Linked DNA regions of Homo sapiens: region 2 is linked to region 1. Evidence: fine-mapped expression QTL. Tissue or cell type: whole blood. Region 1 holds a variant in brackets; the other region holds the start of a gene. All regions are shown on one strand. Distances are between the middles of the regions.

Region 1 (2,758 bases):
ACAGTGACTTCCACTCGCGGTGGAGTGGCCATTAGAGTACTGAGGAAGGACAGCTGTTGGAAACTGTACTTTAACCAGTGCAATTTAAGCTTTTTTTGCTTTTGTTCTTTAGTAATAAAATACTTCTGGAGGGATAAAATTTTCTTGCAATGGTGTCTCATACAAAACACGAGTCTAAAAGGGTAAGAAAAGACGGTTCTAAAGCAACACCATTAGCGTCGTCCCCTCTCTAGGCTGGTTTCCACCCAGAGATGTGGATGTGGGTGTGTTCACACGTGGGCGTCTGGGTGAGAGATGTCTGTCAAGTCCATATGCTCCATGCCACACTGGACGTATGGGAAAAAGGTTAACAGTCAAATATTCAGTTCCTGAAATGGAATACATTGTTACTTGGTCAGTGTAATTTAAATACAAACTCCGAGCCTTGAGTAGTAGTATTTTAGAAAACAGTAGTTGTACTGATTATAAACCTGCATAGAAAGAAAGACTATTGAGATACAGTCAGAAAAGCCATCTCATAAGGCACACAAGAAAATAGACAGTAAATGTGAATGTGTTAACTCCTATTCCAATGTACAGCAGAAGTTCATGAACATGCATAAATAATAACGAAGGAATCACTTAACACTTTCAAAGCTATAAATGGTTTACAAAGTGGTAAGGATTATTTTGGAACTTCAGTGTTGGGAGACTGTCTTGTTTGGATTAGGTGTGGCCTTATGAAGAAATGTGCCTGTAAGTAGTTCAGTAAAGTAAGTACATTTTTAAAGAAAAATCCTTTCTGAATAAGAGCCTAATGTCTATACTGAAGAGAGGAGACAGCATGTCATCCTCCTTTTTTTGGCCTCTCTCAAAAGTTACTGCCCAAACTGCCATGAGAACAGAACCTCCAGTTTGCAGCCTGTGGTGCGCAGGTCTCTCCTGCACTGATCATACCTATGTGTCAGTCAGGAAATCTGGCTGATGACTTGTCACAAACAGCAGATGAGGAAAATGTCAAAAGGAACGTAATTTGGGGGGGGGGTGGGGGGGGGGGAACAAAATGTACATAGAAATTGTAGGTAGCTGCTCAATATCATTTAAAATATAAAATAGCAATTTTTAAACCCTTGAGTTTTTTAGGAAAAGGAGTATTTAAAAATCTACAATGAAAGATATACAGGACTTTGAATTTTGCTCATGGCACAAGCCCAGTAAGTGGATGAACTTGCTATCATCCATTAGTTGTCTTCCTGAAAGAATAAGGCCTTGTTCAAAATCCAAGCTGAGGGTGGCACTAATTCCAATTAGAATGGCAAGAGTCATGCCAAGGACCAGCACCCTAAGAGTGTTTCTCCCCGCATACCAAAGCATCACTGCAATGTGCAGAAGAGCTGATAACGGTAGGATTTTGTAACCAGCTGCATCGTTCTGTTTTCAGAGGGTCAAGGAAAAAAGATCCCTTTCCCCATGATTATTTTCCCCTAATCATTTACCACTTATAAAACCTTTGTGCTCATCTACTATTTTGCCATTTTCTCTAATATTAATTAAATTAGGTCAGCTTTTTCTACTACATTTTTTCCTCACAAAAGGCAAGTTTTAAATAATGCCTTACAAAATCTGTTACAACACATTTTATACTTATGCAGGATGAAC[TTAACA/A]CCAATTTTTTTTGCCACTTTGCTATTTATGTACACATACAAAATATATAATGATGCTCAACCCATACAGCACAAAGATTACAATGTAACATCACACATTCACCACCAGTGAGGGGAGAAACCCCTTTATACAATCCTCTGAAAAAACTGGGCTAATAATTAAAATCCAAAGTACAGTATATTTAACAAAATAGTAAATATTAAACAGTGAATACTTAATAAAGGACCTCGCCTTTTCCCCCCAGATTGGCGGCAATCCACAAAAATATACTTTTTAATCTGGTGACCATACAATACATAGGTACTTACATCAAAGGTGATAATATATTTAAGATGCTATATACACAAAGAGTTTGGCTCAACTTTTAATTTACATTTAGAATAAGTGTTCATGGCTTTTTTTTTCCAAGGTTCTGCTTGCAAGATATTTTTGTTTTCCCCTCTTAAAATAAAACTAAAGAGTTAAACCAAGATAAAGCTATTCTCTAAAAAAAAGTTACAACATATAGCTTTGGCTTATATAAATAATTCATAGCAGAATGTGTTCAAAAGTAGTGAATATAATTTTATATATAGTCATCAATTCATAAGGGTGTTTTCTTTCATATAAAATATACATGAGCTAAAATCAGTTTCTTTAATTTTTAAGATATGAATGTAAAAAGAAACTTCTGACATATTCCAATTATAACTTAATATATTAATTTTACTTTGTTAATGCTCTATATTTCTAGGCTAGTATTTTCTGAATATCTCATGCGTGTTTTCTATTCTCTTTCTTTATTAGCTAAAGATCACTTCTTGACCCAATACATTTTTGCACGTGCAAAACAGTTATGTGTGGGGCTTTTTTGTTTTGTTTGTTTTTAATATCAACAGCCCTTTCCCATGCACCCCTTTGCAACAGACACCCATGCCAGGTTGGAAAATATAAATGACATTTTATGTACAGTATTGCTTTCTTGGTTCCTGCTTTTCTACTGCTCTGTTCTACAAAGCATTTTCTCTTAAGTAACTACAGTCACTGCACAGTTAAATAAAACAAGTAGGGGGCCCTCTAGGTTTCTGCAAGCTAGTGTGGGAGAATTATATATGGGTACACGTTTCTCTGCAAA
Region 2 (2,758 bases), 150 kb after region 1:
TCTCACTGTAAACTAAAACGCAGGTTAACACTATGTTATATTCAAGCTACACACGGTTCCCTGCTGGACCATAACAGGAGGCTCGCTTCACAGCTCCGGAATCTATTTCGGATGTGAGCAACAATTCTATAGTTACACTTTTAAAGAAAAACTGTTTTCTTATTCAGGATTGCTCACCTTTTCCAAACTTGTTTGCACTATCTCACTTACTTTAACCCTCACAGCTCAAAGGCATGAAATCGAGCCAAAAAGCAAAGTTTCTAACACAAAAAATATTTTCTGCGAGCTGGGATCTAGCCGGATGGCAGGGGTTCAGCCAGCGGTTCCCTGTGCAGCCCCTCTGTCCCCGCGACGTCTCCCCGCACGATCGGGCGTCCGCAACCGCAGGTGTCCGCCCCAAACACCGACCCCGCCACTGACATCTACACACTCACAGAATTCGTACCTAAGCGTTCCACCCCGTTAGACCAATCTTCTCCCAAAGCAGAAGTGGGGGAACTTCTTCAAGTCCAACAGGGCAGAAGGCCCCCCGCACTTGGGGCTAATCCCTTCGGGGAGACCCCCGGGCTTGGAGGGAAAAGGGGAAGGAAAGGGCCCTCAGAGCGCACCTTCTCCGGGGTCTCCCGAGAACTCCTTCAACTTTCAAGGAGGCGACGTCCACCACCGCCCCCCGGCCCCAAGGGGTGCGCGCCCGGGGAGGCTGCTCGCCACCAGCCCGCGCGACTGAGCTCCCCTCGGCCCGCCCAGCCGAGCCCCATCCAGCCCCACCGGCCCGCCCTCAGGGCACCCCGCCCCCACCTCCCCGGGCGCCTAGCTCCTCAGCGCCGACCCCGACCCGACCACCCCTCGCCGCCTCCCAGCACCCTACCCGCCTCCCAGCACCCTACCCGCCCCGCCAATGCGCGAACGCGACCCTGGCCCCCTCCAAGCCGGACACGGCCTCGTCCAGGGGTCCCCGGAGCCCCCCGGGCGACCCTCTCGGCCGCGCCGTCCCCCGCCCCAGCACCTCCACCCCAACCCCTACTCGGTCCCCTAAGCGAGACGCCGCCCCCCTCCAGCACTACCGGCGTCGCGGACTGAGCCCCGCTGCCCGCGGCCCTCACCGTATCTCCGGAGCAGCTGGCGGGCGCGCACACGCCGCAGCCCGGGCCCGCCACCAGCGCTTCGCGCCGCCCGGAGCCGCCTCTTTCAGCCCGGGACTCGCCGGGACATCCGCGCACGGATCCCCACACCGGGGCTATTTTTAGGAGACAAGCCTCGGCCAGACCGGAACTCGTTCTGTGCTGCGCGTGCGCACTACCTCCGCCGCCTCGGTGTCCCTCCGCAGCCCTGCCTCCCCTCCCTCCTGGGTTCCCTTCCTCGCTTCTCCCCATCAGTTTCTTTTCAGGACTGAATTATCCTCTCGGTGGGTTCTAGAGTAATTGGAATGGGAAAGACAAGGGTAGGGCAAAGAGAGTCACGGTGCTTGGAAGCGGGCGCTATTCCACAAGGACGTGGGGGCGGACTATGTTTTTCCGGGTGGGTGAGGAGACGATCACCTGGCACAGGAAGAAGATGACGGCGGCTTGGCGCCGGGGCCGCGGGTTGGAGCTCGCTTTCCTCTGAAGGACCGTGTTCCCCTGGAAGGGATACTGGTCACTTGATGAGGGCCCGGGCGCCTCCCAGGGCGGGGCGGCCCGGCGGCGTCGCGCCCTGCCGCCCCCGCTCCGCCGCTCAGCCGCCGCCACCTCCCTGACCAGCCCCCGGGAGCCCAGGCCGGGAGCGGCCCGGTGACGCGGCGCGTGGCAAATCGCCGCGCGTGGCCTCCAGGGCAGCCAACCCGGGCGGTGGGGCGGCGCGGCGCGACGGGACTGGGCGGGGCTCCCGGGGCGGGGGCGGGGCGCGAGGCCGGCTGCCGCCCGGAGTCCGGGGCCGGGCGGGTCCTTCGGGACGCCCGGGTCAGCCTCCTCCCTCCCTCCCTCGAGGCGCCCTTGGCCTCCCCGGGTGTCGGCTCGCCACGCCCGCATTGTGGCCAGGGCCGCACCTGTGCTCGCCCCGGGGCACGGGCAGGTCACCCTCAGGAGCAAGCACAAGGGGACTCTGGGACCCGGGCCCGGAGAGAAAGGGACTTGAAGGGGTCTCGAGGGCGAGAAGGCCCTTTCGGACTGGACAGCCGAGCTCCCCAGGTCCCAGGACAGTAGCAACCTCCTTATCGTGACTTAATAGTTTCTAGGATGCCTGGGGCGGTGAACTATGTGATGGACATTTTGCATATGACAGCTTATGTAATACTTACAAGGCCCCATGAAGCAGATTCAGTTTCTATTCCCATTTTACAGATGAGGAAAGGGAAGCTGAGCGCTAAAGTGACCTGTCAGGGTCACAGCTTCAGAGTAGGGCCCTGAGGACTTGAACTCCTGACCACTCTGCATGTTGCCTTTTCTGAGATAGGTGCAAAGGGGATAGGCTTGGGACAGCTGTTGTGTTTTCTGGGGCTACTGATTATGTTTATCGAGGTCTTTAGGAGATGAGCCATTGTTGGCCCTCTCATCCTGAAAGCCGCTCACCTCTGAAGAGTTTTTCGGGGCCACAGTGCCTGCATGTGCCCCCAGAGGTGCCTGTGTAATGGACACGAAGCCAAATGGTTGTTTGCATTTGAAGATGAGAAATTCAATCCCGCAGCACTTAAAACAAAGTGGTTGGGGTGGGTGAGCAGATGAGCAGAGGCTGTGAGTGGAGGAACTGGGAAGTTACAAAGGAAGCCAGAGACTGGCTGGCT

The links. PIP is the estimated chance that this variant, and not a neighbour inherited with it, causes the effect.
Region 2: it holds the start of MEF2A, and the variant in region 1 is fine-mapped to the expression of MEF2A in whole blood (INTERVAL, PIP above 0.99).

Annotation. Positions count from the first base shown.
Region 1 is chr15:99,713,078-99,715,835 of GRCh38, reverse strand. MEF2A (myocyte enhancer factor 2A) reads right to left here. Exons shown (of 12, transcript NM_001319206.4): 12 at 1-2,758. It also overlaps a transcript of LYSMD4 not described here. Among named protein-coding and RNA genes, the nearest start is that of LYSMD4, 19 kb to the left of the region's middle. The variant TTAACA/A (reference allele first, on the strand shown) is at 1,639.
Region 2 is chr15:99,564,450-99,567,207 of GRCh38, reverse strand. It overlaps MEF2A (myocyte enhancer factor 2A), which reads right to left and starts at 1,224. Exons shown (of 12, transcript NM_001319206.4): 1 at 1,104-1,224. RefSeq lists silencers at 724-773, 1,614-2,053 and enhancers at 1-926, 927-1,902.